Linked DNA regions of Homo sapiens: regions 1 and 3 are each reported to be linked to region 2. The links are microRNA targets in miRTarBase. Many come from high-throughput screens and were not tested one by one. Region 2 holds a microRNA gene; each other region holds the end of a gene's coding sequence.

Evidence for each region. The annotated mature microRNA hsa-miR-631 reads AGACCUGGCCCAGACCUCAGC and lies in region 2 at 1,663-1,683, opposite strand. An mRNA with a match to its seed (bases 2 to 7 or 8) in the 3' UTR can be bound and repressed. Matches are read on the target gene's strand: a 7mer-m8 pairs with bases 2 to 8, a 7mer-A1 pairs with bases 2 to 7 and ends in A, and an 8mer does both.
Region 1: miRTarBase lists ZNRF3 as a target of hsa-miR-631. Seed matches in the 3' UTR shown: 8mer at 2,507-2,514, 7mer-A1 at 2,434-2,440 and 8mer at 2,377-2,384.
Region 3: miRTarBase lists ZNF449 as a target of hsa-miR-631. Seed matches in the 3' UTR shown: 8mer at 1,719-1,726.

Annotation. Positions count from the first base shown.
Region 1 is chr22:29,052,838-29,056,837 of GRCh38, reverse strand. It overlaps ZNRF3 (zinc and ring finger 3), which reads right to left. Exons shown (of 9, transcript NM_001206998.2): 9 at 1-3,259. The coding sequence ends at 3,216. Among named protein-coding and RNA genes, the nearest start is that of C22orf31, 7.0 kb to the left of the region's middle. RefSeq lists a silencer at 1,343-1,637.
Region 2 is chr15:75,351,988-75,356,136 of GRCh38, forward strand. MIR631 (microRNA 631) reads right to left here and starts at 1,698; the gene lies at 1,624-1,698. It overlaps NEIL1 (nei like DNA glycosylase 1), which reads left to right. Exons shown (of 10, transcript NM_024608.4): 3 at 124-243; 4 at 337-400; 5 at 615-714; 6 at 1,752-1,879; 7 at 2,263-2,290; 8 at 2,444-2,505; 9 at 2,666-2,831; 10 at 2,977-4,149. The coding sequence ends at 3,047. It overlaps MAN2C1 (mannosidase alpha class 2C member 1), which reads right to left. Exons shown (of 26, transcript NM_006715.4): 25 at 4,123-4,149; 26 at 3,805-4,045. The coding sequence ends at 3,919. RefSeq lists an enhancer at 4,141-4,149.
Region 3 is chrX:135,360,640-135,364,639 of GRCh38, reverse strand. It overlaps ZNF449 (zinc finger protein 449), which reads right to left. Exons shown (of 5, transcript NM_152695.6): 5 at 1,227-4,000. The coding sequence ends at 3,564. Among named protein-coding and RNA genes, the nearest start is that of ZNF449, 18 kb to the right of the region's middle.

The DNA of each region.
Region 1 (4,000 bases), not on the chromosome of region 2:
GATTAGGAGGAGACAGGGAAGGAGCTGAGAGTTAAAGCCAGCTTACTGGGGCTGCATCCATAAAGAGGTACCTTGTTGGTAAACACCCAAACTTCCATTTTTAGCTGGTTCTAGAACTCTTCACTGTATATGGCTGTCCTACAGCCAGGGCTGGGTCACTTGACCCTGCCCAACTGCCACACCCCAACTTAGAGGGATTGGGGGCAGGGGTTCTCAGTGGAAAGTGAGATACTCCTAGTTTCCATGGCTATAAAACCACTACACACCACTCAGAGTCCACCGAAAAGGGTGTCTGTCATTGGTGGAGTCTTACAACTTCAAAGAGGACATTTCTTTTGATTTACGTGTGACAAAATAAGACCATCGGTTATTTTATTCCAGTGATCTCCCTGTCTGAGAAGCCAACACGAATTTAAAAGACAATGGTTGGTATTGCTGGGCAGGCATGGTGGCTCACGCCTGTAATCCCAGCACTTTGGGAGGCCGAGGTGGGCGGATCACCTGAGGTCGGGAATCCAAGACCAGCCTGACCAACATGGAGATACCCTGTCTCTACCAAAAATACAAAATTAGCTGGGTGTGGTGGCGCATGCCTGTAATCCCAGCTACTTGGGAGGCTGAGGCAGGAGAATCACTTGGACCCGGGAGGCAGAGGTTGCAGTGAGGTGAGATCGCGCCATTGCACTCCAGCCTGGGTGACAAGAGCAAAATTCCATCTCAAAAAAAAAAAAGGCAATGGTTGGTATTTGGTATTTAAGGTTTTAAAATTGCATTTTTGTTTCTACCACCTGTAAGCTACAAAAATTAAATGGGTTTCTTTCGCCATCTGCAGCTATCACTTGTTCAAGTGAAAACTAGACACACTTACTTTAATAAGCCCAGTTGAAGCCACATTCTCTACTCATCTATTTATTGCTTAAGGCTATTGAGAGGTGGTTTTCCAGCCAGGGCTAAAGAAAGCCACTTTGGGAGTTCGGTTTCAGACGAGGAAGAAAATATGCACTCAAAGGCATTAAAAACAAAACAAAAAAACCCCCCAGAAACAACAACAAAAAAATATCAGTGAGAAGCTGCTTTTTGCAGTTCATATTAAAAGCCAGACCCTGCTTCCCTAAAACCACGCAATGCAAGCTGCTGTCCTTAGCAGCTGCTACTCCTGGCCCGAGAAATGAAGGCGTCCCAGATCACATGTCACCAGCTTAGGCGCTTCTCACACCCTCGATAACAGGTGTGCGGGGCGCAGTCCGAGGAGCAGCCCCCAAGGGACTGCACCCGAGGACGGAGAACGGATCTCACCAGTGAAGCCTCAGTGGCAAATGTTTTGATCATTTGATGTTGGAATTTGTCAAATCCTAGCTAGAGATAAGTAAATTTCCTCATCATACGCTGAGGTTAAGAAAAACATTCTGATAAGAGTGAGATTCTCGTTCAAGACTGGAGAACCCAGGTGGTCCTTGTTCTCCTACCCACAGGGGGCCAGGTCTCAAGTTTCCTATTCTCAAGCGAGCTTTCAGACCCACTGGGCCAGTTCTTTCAGATGGCAACAAATATCTGATGAATGAATGAATAAATAAATACAAGTGACCAGAAGAGTTAGTGAACACAAAGACTAATATTAGTTTCCTCTAAAAAAAATTTTTTTAAAGAACAAGGAATACATTGGACAAAAAAGGATGACAATCCCTGATCTGAAATAGCTTTAAATAGATTCTCTCTCCCTTTTAAAAATGAAACACCTTAAAACCACAACGGTTTGGGTTTTTAAACTCTCCCCTTCCCCTTAATAAAAAAGGCTGGAAAAATATACAAAAACCTACCCTTTGGGTGTAAACTATCTGATAGTCTCTCTCTCTCTCTGTCTCATGGAGAATCAATACATAATAGTGCATTAGGTAGACAGGATAGTAGACATCTGCAGACGAGATGAGCAATTTCAGCCATGAGGCAGAGGACTGAATAACCCTGAAGCGGTGCTTCCGTGGGGGAAATGGGATAGGAAAGGTATCATTCAAATGGAGCTCAGTGCAGACCTCGTAGGTCCAGTCACATGCCCCCAGAAAGGCAGCCCAAGGAAGCAGCAGCCAAGGGGTGTGGCTGCCCCCACACAGATGCAGGCGCACTGCACATGGGTGTGCTGCTGGGTCAGTGGAGAGCACTCTCCCCCAGCCCCATCGGACACCAAGGCCACAAAAGTACATTCCTTCTGGGTGTCTGTCCCCACACACCCCGTCGAGCCATTTCTGCAGCCAGTGGCAGGGGGCCCAAAATATTTTTGCAAAGGACTCCAAAGCCAGGACAACCAAAGGGGACAACCTCCTCTTCCCTGCCCGGAGGGTCAGAGTTCAGGTCGAGGGCCCCAAGAACATGCCCTTACTATGACCTGGACCTCAGCCAAGACCAGGGCTGTGAACTCTGTCATTTCACTTGGGACCATGACCTGAGGGGACAGACTGAGGACACTGGGCAGAATCGTCCCCATCACCCTGGAGCTTTCATAGCAGCGGCTTGACCTGGCTCCGCAGGGCTGTGGATCATGTACACCCTATTCCTAGCTGCTGCCATCACCTGCCTAAAGGCGTGGGCTGGAGAGGCATGGCGTCTGAGACCTGAAATCGTGTACATTGGGATTTGCCACGAGAAAGAAAGAGGCAGTTTTGCACTGCTCCTCAGAGCCTGTACCCCTATCAACTAGCTTTACTTCAAGTTTCTGGTTCATTTTCTAAGGCAGGTGAAGCCCTGAGCTTTTCAAAGGCCTGAGCTCCCTTCAGGGAGACAACAGTATCTACACATGATGTGGTTCATTTAATGCAGCAGTGATTTTTTTTTCTTTTTCAGCAAAAGTTGGCAGTTAGGGTTCTTTAAAATATATATTTAAATAACTTTTTACATTTACATACAATATCTTAAAAAAAAACAAAGCAGAGAACTCAATCCCACACCTCGGAACCCCAAGCACACACACTTTACAAAACAGAACAACATGTTATCAAAAGAGGCAAAGGACTCGGAGAATTTTGTCTGTTGATTTGTTAATGGGGTAGGGGGTGGTTTTGCCACAGGGGGCTCACATTTTGGGTTGACAAGGAGGGCTCTCTTTATTACCACTTTTGTGTGTTTGTCAAAGCTAAAAAAATTTTTTGTTTTTGTTTTTTGAAAGAAGTCAGTTTGGAGTCTCCATACAGTTCCCAATTTCCAGGTAAGAGTTCCTCCTGAGCTCAGGCTCCCGGGCTGCTGCTGTCTGCTGAGTGAGATCTCGGTCCTGGGAAAGAGAGAGAACAATCATCAGGGGAGGGAGCTGGCACCACACATGGGACCAGGCAAGGGACTCAGGTGGCCCTGTCCCCAGCATGTGGCAGGCCTGTGTATGCTAAAGGGCTGAAGCAGGTTCCTGTTCCCAGAGGGGCTCCATTTGTGCTGAGAGCACAGGTACCTCCTGGAGAGCCAGCCTCTCACTTGGATGTAGAGAGCTTTCTAGAAGCCCTCAGGTAGCACGAAAGCCCAATATATTAAAGATGTTAACTGGGTGCCCGGTGTGCGTCAGGCCTTGGGAAAAGCAGCAGAGAGGACTCCCTCACAGAGATTACGAACCTTGAGACAAAGTAATTTAGCAATAGGATGACAGAAGTGAACAGAAGGTGTGTAGGTGATCTCAGAGGGGGCTGGAGTGTTACCTAACCTAAGATCTGGAGGAGAAAAGTAGCGGACAGGTCTGGGGGCTGGAATGAGCTTGGCACATGGGAAGAACGGGACAGGGGCCACAGGAGGTGAAAGCAGGAAGCAAGGAGAGTGAACCAGGAGCTCATCAGATGGGTTGGCAGGAGCTGGATCACACAGAACTGAGTGAGATGCTAACATTTATTATTATTTTTGAGACAGGGTCTTGCTGTGTTGCCTAGGCTGAAGTGCAGTGGTGAGATCATGACTACAGCCTCAATCTCTTGGGCTCAGCCTCCTGGGTATCTGGGACTAATGGCATGTGTCACCGTGCCCAGCTAATTAA
Region 2 (4,149 bases):
AGAAGAGGAACTGTAACTCCCAGTTTCCTTCCCCTTGCACCCAGAAACAGGTTCTCTGAGCCCCTCTCCCCATCCCATGGAGGGTGGGGATGGGTCTTACGCACCCAGACCGTGTTCCTCCAGGGAGAATGTGCTACGAAACCTAGCGGATAAGGCCTTTGACCGGCCCATCTGCGAGGCCCTCCTGGACCAGAGGTTCTTCAATGGCATTGGCAACTATCTGCGGGCAGAGATCCTGTACCGGTCAGCAAGCAGGCATGGGCATGGGGACTGCGGTGGGCCAGGTGTGCCCACATTCCCCACTGCCTAGCATGGCTTGCCTTGCCCCCACTACAGGCTGAAGATCCCCCCCTTTGAGAAGGCCCGCTCGGTCCTGGAGGCCCTGCAGCAGCACAGGCCGGTAAGCCCAGAGAGGGATGGAGCACACGTGCTGGCACACTGGTGTCCACATGGGCCGGCAAGGAGATGGGTGGGGTCAGGTGTCCCCAGCTTAGCTCAACAACAGGGGTGGGGAGGGGATGAACTGCCCAAAGTCTGACCAAGCTCAGAGAGAAGGTCAGCTGCCTTTACATGGCCCTGCTGACAGACAGGTCCTGCCCCTGCCCCTTCCTCAGAGCCCGGAGCTGACCCTGAGCCAGAAGATAAGGACCAAGCTGCAGAATCCAGACCTGCTGGAGCTATGTCACTCAGTGCCCAAGGAAGTGGTCCAGTTGGGTGAGGCCAAAGATGGCAGCAACCTCTGCTTCAGCAAATGATTGTGTAACCCTGGGGCACTTGTCCCTCTCTGGACCTGATTCACCGATTTGGAAGTTTGTAGCCCTAGCTGATACTCAATGGACTAGGCCTCCTCACTTGTCAATAGTGTTTCCAGGCTGGGCGCAGTGGCTCATGCCTGTAATCCCAGCACTTCGGGAGGCCGAGTGGGGTGGCTCACCTGAGGTCAGGAGTTCGAGACCATCCTGGCCAACATGGTGAAACCCCATCTCTACTAAAAATGCAAAAAATTAGCCAGGTGTGGTGGTGGGCACCTGTAATCTCAGCTACTCGGGAGGATGAGGCAGGAAAATCGCTTAAACCCAGGAGGTGGAGGTTGCAGTTGAGCTGAGATCGTGCCATTGCACTCCAGCCTGGGCAACAAGAGCAAAACTCCATCTCAAAAAAAAAAAAAACAAAAAAACAGTGTTTCCTCCAAGCTGCCCATGAGACAGGCAGGACAAGGATTCTTTTATATATTTATACACACACACACACACACACACACACGCACGTTTATATATATTTTTGGTAGAGATAGGATCTTGCCATGTTGCCTGGACTAGCCTCAAACTGGGCTCAAGTGATCCTCCCACATCTGCCTCTAAGTAGCTAGGACTACAGGCTCACACCACCACACCGGGCTAATTGTTAAAAATTTTTTTTGTAGAGACAGGGTCTCCCTATGTTGCCCAGGCTGGTATTGAACTCCTGGCCCCTAGGGATTCTCCCATCTAAGCTTCCCAAAGTGTCGGGATTACAGGTGTGGCCACTGCACAGGGCCAGGACAAGGATTCTTAATCCCACTCCAGGATGGGAAACCCATGGCCGAGTGGGAAGAAACCAGCTGAGGTCACATCACCAGAGGAGGGAGAGTGTGGCCCCTGACTCAGTCCATCAGCTTGTGTAGCTGAGGTCTGGGCCAGGTCTAACCAGGCTCCCCACTCCTCCCAACCTGAGCCTGCCCTCTGATCTCTGCCTGTTCCTCTGTCCCACAGGGGGCAAAGGCTACGGGTCAGAGAGCGGGGAGGAGGACTTTGCTGCCTTTCGAGCCTGGCTGCGCTGCTATGGCATGCCAGGCATGAGCTCCCTGCAGGACCGGCATGGCCGTACCATCTGGTTCCAGGTTGGGCCCTACTGTTCACACAGGCAGAGACCCCAGGAGGCTGATGGGTGGAAACGTGGGGTCACAATAACTGGGGTGGTGATGCTCAGGGTCTGTCTAGACCCTCCAAGGACCACACTGTTCCTGAGGGTCACACCCCTCCCCTCCCATGCGTCCCAGGGTTGCAGCTAGTGGAAGTAGCCCAAGGCAGGTAGCCCAAGTGAAAGTAGCCAAGGGCAGAGCAGCTTTGCTGATGTGGACTCTAACATGGGGGATGTCCTAGAGGCTTCCTAAGGGAGAAGCTACACTGATCTGGATGGGTGTGTGTGAGTCCTGCCTCTCCAAGGAATACCGCCCCTGTGCCAACCCAGGCTGATTCCTGAATTATCCCCATCCCATTTTAGGGGGATCCTGGACCGTTGGCACCCAAAGGTAAGCTACTCCTAATGTAATAGGCTAAGAGAGCAGAAAGGACTTCACGCCTGCAAGGGCTACAGCACCCTTCTCCACCCTATCCCCCTGCAACCCTGGGAGTCACCCCTGGGCAGGATAGGACCCTCCAACTCCAACACCAGTGTCCTGCAGGGCGCAAGTCCCGCAAAAAGAAATCCAAGGCCACACAGCTGAGTCCTGAGGACAGAGTGGAGGTATGGCTGCCTGCTCCCGCCTCCTCCCCTGCACTCTGCAGCCCTGGCTGCCCCTCCCAGGCAGCTGCCTTACCCTAAGAGGGCGGGGGGAGTGGTGGGCCCTAACCAACCTCTGAACTGCTTTCTGAGCCCCTCAGGGACCCGTGTCTCCTCCATCCAGGACGCTTTGCCTCCAAGCAAGGCCCCTTCCAGGACACGAAGGGCAAAGAGAGACCTTCCTAAGAGGACTGCAACCCAGCGGCCTGAGGGGACCAGCCTCCAGCAGGACCCAGAAGCTCCCACAGTGCCCAAGAAGGGGAGGAGGAAGGGGCGACAGGCAGCCTCTGGTGGGCTTTCCTCATCACTCCCAGAAACTGGCTCTACAGGAGAGGATGGGATGGTGGCCTAGGAGCGCGTGTACAAAGGTGGGAGAAAGGCTGCCATGGCAGCCCCTGGAGTCTTAGCTGACCATCTTGCCTGTTCTTCCCCCAGGCCACTGCAGACCCCGGAAGGTCAAGGCTGACATCCCATCCTTGGAACCAGAGGGGACCTCAGCCTCTTAGCAGGAGGCTCTCCTTGCTTGCACTCACCCTTTCTTATTGTCTTGCCCTGCATCTGGGGGTCTGAATTTTTGGGAGCAGGCAATATCTGAAGGTGCAAACAGGCCCTACGGCTGTTCCCTGCACAACTCTCATGGTTTTAATTGTACCCCATCTTCCACATCTTTAAAGCTCATGTGAAAAATGCTGCATTTTTAATAAACTGATACATTTGAACTTCTTGGCACCTCTTGGTCTGAGATGGCCAGGTAGGAAGGGCCTGCTGTCCGGTCCTGGTGACAGAAGGCCCAGCTCCTCACAAGGCAAACTGAGCCCCCATCCCAGTCCTCAAGGCTCTGACTCTATCAGAGGACAGTTTGCCTCTGCAAGGACAGCCCCTCAGAGGTGGTACAAAGACCCTGGCCCCAGGCAGCCCAGGAGCCAGAGCTCCTCCAGTCCAGATTCTCCAGGGTCCAGGGCTGCCCCCTCATCCTGGCAGGAGCCAGGCAAAACCCACCCTTCGGCCCCTCCCCAGCCCCAGGCCCAGGCCCTTTACCTGCTGGCACAGGGGAGGGGCTTCTCAACTCATGGTCTCTTCACTGGCTTTTGGTGGCTCGAGGTCCCCAGTCTCTCCTGTGGGGGCTGCAACCCAGACCCTGCACGCACAGGTACCTTAGGATCTTGCCCCTACCCACCAAATACCTGGGAAGCCATCCCACCCCAGACTTCCCACCCCCACCCCAAGCGTGAGGATGGGCCCTAAGGGGACTGAGCAGCAGGGTTCCCGATCCAAGGATTTATTCCACAAGAAAAGACTGATCCCTGCTTTAGGCTGGGGAAGCAGAAATTAGGAGTCCCCAGAGCCTTCTACAAACAAAACCCCAGCCCCAGGGACTCAGTGTGGCGGAGGCTGAAGCACGAGCAACAGGGACAGCACTTGGAAGGGAGAAAAGGTGAGCTTCAGGCGGTTGTCCCGAAGGGTCAAGTGGCCAGCAGGGTCTGGTCGCTCCAAGAGATCGCAGCTGGAGAACAGGAGGGGCCATGAAGGCTCTGCGAGGGCGAGACTCGACCCCCGCCCCAATCCCACACCGCCACTCACAGGATGGCCTCCTGAACCGGCAGCGAC
Region 3 (4,000 bases), not on the chromosome of region 2:
GATGACTCAGTTTTCTGGAGGTGCTCAAGACTGTTTCTCTTGGGGATTCTATGGTGAGTGCAGGTGCAAGAGGACAAAGTGTAATGACTCTCTTCCCCCACCTCATGGGGAGGCTTGGGGGCTGGTTCCCCTGTTTATTCCCTATTTCTCTGGATTTTAGCCTACACAACATCCTCAGTACACTATGAAACAATCCCTGAGAATTCAGGAGGGCCACAGTCGCAAAAACCTCAAAGTGCCCTGTGCAGGTTCTCTCTGCTTTCAGAAAGACAAATAACTATGGGATCCTGAAGGAGAGCGTTCTCAGCCTGGTTTGAAGAGTCCCGGTCTCCCCTAGGTCCTTTAGCTTCCTGTTTTAACTGCCTGCCTCAATGCCCAGGCAGCTACTAACAATTGCTGTATAACATCCACAGAACAGACCAAAGGTGGTGGAAAAAACTTACCAAGGGAAGGGGGAGTACAAAGGTTCAGGGAGGCAGAATGGGGAGCAATTCGATCTTGATGTCACCAACCCTTCACAAACACCAAGAATACGCCTAAAGACATTAAAGTAATTGAGCGGTCCAAGGCTCTATTCTAAATTTGCACCCTATAGAGCCCTTATTTTCTAAGGTTTTAGGATACTTAACAAATTTTATAAAATGTAGGTCTTTAAAAAAGCCTAAATGAGCTTTCAAAGCAGAAATAGAATGAAACTTGTTCTCTAATCACAATGTAGCAAAACCAAAAATTAAGAGGAAAATGGCAACATTGTATATCTCTTAAGTCAAAGAGGAATTATAATGAAAACAACAACCATTTTGAAATCATCAATAAGAACATTACATATAAAAGCTATGAAGTATGTCCAAAGCCATAAAGAGAAGAAATCTATAGCTTTAAATGCTTTTATCATTAAACTACAAAAATGAGAATATAATACGGGGATATTTATTGAAAGCTTACAGTGTGTAGGGCCAGAGCAAAATATATTTCATTTAATCTTCATAGTACTTTTGAGGTAGGTACTGTAATTTCCCCTTTATAATAGCTAGGAGGTAGGTACTGTATTTTGCCCTTATCTTTTTGAAATGCTCAGAAGTACAATTAGACATAGAAGTATAATTATCCATGCAATGTTCTAAATATGTTATCTGTTTCCAAGAACTATTTCATGTGTTTCTTGATTCAATACCAGAAATATTTATTCTTATATATAGGGCACTGTAACAAAGAATATTAGACATTCTCTAACTTGTAAAAATCTAGTCAAGTATATTTGATATAAATGAGAGGGAGGATGCAACTCATATTATGATTGCAACTAACCCTACTAGCCAAAAATGGACTGTATTAAATGCTAAAAATGATGCATAATCACAGTGCCATGGTTGCAGAGAGAAAAGCGATTCCAACTTGGGATGAGGACAGAGTCAATTGCCATGCTTGTTGCCACTGTTCAGGGAAGAAGCTCTAAGTTGTTCAAATAATTAATTAGTGCAAGTGAAGCAGGAAGAGCACATACATTTCCGCTTTATTCAAATATTGCATAAATACAGAGCAGTTGGGCACATCCATTCTAAGGCACTGTTCTGGTTTGAATGCAATTCCACAAGAGAGAAAAGAGAAGCCATTACATTCTGTATTTTTCATCTCTACATTCAGACTCCTCCTATATTATATGTTTATTGCTACTGGGATATCAATTTGAGCCCCAGACTTATAGCAGCATCATATGTTGACCTGGATGACAAGAATTAAAGATACATCCTGGGTCTAGCAATTGGTATAATTGGCACTTAATTACAAACTCTCTTGCATTATTCTCCACCTGTTTCCCAACTCTTGTTTAACTAAAAATATTATAAAATCTTTATGAGCCTGATCCATGAATTATATTTCTTTACTAGCTTCCACTAAGCCTAGAACAGGACTAGTTAGGCACATAGTAGATACCCCCCAAAGTATTTATATCACTCTCGAGAACTTCAATGGAATAAAGACATATACTTTTCCTAATTGTAGTTCAAGGAAAGGATGACTGAACATCTTCATAAAGGGAAAATGCCTGAATGTCTTATTTCTTGTATTTTATAACAAGGAACTAGGCTCAATGAATATTTTCATGTTTTAACAGGTTTAACTGACAATGAGAAGTCTTCCCTTGCTTTGGGAATTTGAGCTGTTACCATGATTACATGAGAACATTTATATAAGTAGCAGTGTGTGTGTGTATGTAATTATAAGTAAAATTCAAAGAGGTTGAGAATCACTGGGAAACTTATACATTATCTGAATTAGTGATCCTCAGCTTCTTAAAATGATATGTGTATATACATATGTGTGTGCGTGTGTGTGTAAATGTAAGTAAAATTCAAAGAGATTGAGAATCACTAGGAAACTTAAAAATTATCTGAATTAATGATCCTCACCCCCTTAAAGTAGTATGTGTGTGTGTCTCTGTGTGTGTTACACAAATTCATATATATTTTAAGAATTTTTCATAACACCCTTAAAACAACTGGAGATAACTAGGCTTGGGAGCAACATAACTATACTGACAGCTATAGAAATATCTGTTTAAGGCAGTGTGTTCCAAGAGACATTTGCAGAATATTAGTTCTGTAGCTTATTATTGGGTATATGAAAAAGGTTTTGGGGTCAAATAAGTTTGGAAAACATTGAGCCAAAAGAGGTGCTTTTTCTCTCCTTTCTAGAGGACCTCTCAGAGATTCTCATATGCTGATGTGTACTATGAACCTAAGAAGGCGAAACAGCAGGAAGTAATTCCCAAATATATTTGCAGAATATCTAGCAGAACTAAGTATTCTATGACACATACATAGGGAGATGCTGAATTAAAGAATGGGTAAAATTTTAAAAAGCACTAAAAGACACATGATTGAATACCAAAGGAGAGTGAAATACCAAAGGAGAGCAAAAGACCCTGGTTCTTCAGTCAATCAAAATTAAATTAGATTCTGCTTGTATAATTTCAAGCTTAAAATCTTAATTTCCTTAAACATAACAAATTTCAGTGGAAATAACCCAGTTCTTACCAGGCAAATGACATCCCCTTCATCCTTGTGTTCCTGACACATTTTTATTGTTTGACAAAATTCACTGTCTCCTTTCTTGCCACATGGGACACATCTAAAGCTTTGAATGAATATAATCATCTTTAATAATGACAGCAGAATAACTATAGTACTGCTATAATCAATACGTCTGATAGACAGGTTTATCCACTATATTGACCCTACCTCTAAAAGGATTGTCATAATTTATATGCTTTATGTTTACACCTATGATACAGTTGCCTTGGAACACAAAATTTTTCATTGTAATTAAAAAAAGAAGAGTTGTGCAGACAGAAGAAATCAAATCTAAGAAAATCACAGGAGTAGATAAATACTCTAGAATTCATATACCTTGGAAGATGGGTTTTAAAACTAGTAAAAAAAAAAGCTGTCTATGTTCTTATAAGCTCAAACAAAAGCTTCCAAGACAAACAGCCTGCTGCAGGTTAAGATTTTTTTTGAGTTAGTGTCAATTTGTGTAAGACCTGTTTCCCTTAGCAATTCTTAAATAAGTCCTCTAAAGTGAGTGACCTGGTGCATAATAAGGCCGGCTCTCTGTCTGAAGCTTTTAGAACAATGAGTACACTTGTATGGCTTCTCCCCTGTGTGGATTCTTAAATGAATAACGAGGCTTGGTCTCTGTCTAAAACTTTTCCCACAATAATTACATTTAAAAGGTCTCTCTTCAGTATGCGTTCTCTGGTGCAAAGTAAGAGCTGTCAGTCGACTAAAACTTTTCCCACAATTATGACATCTATGAGGTTTTTCACCTGTATGAGTTTTCAGATGTCTTTTAAGACTTGATCCATGACAAAAACTTTTCCCACACTCAAGACATTTATATGTTTCTTCTTCAGAATGGGTTCTCTGGTGCCCTATAAGATGTGACCGCCGAGTGAATCGCTTTTTACATACAGTGCATTCATAGGGTCTCTCCCCTG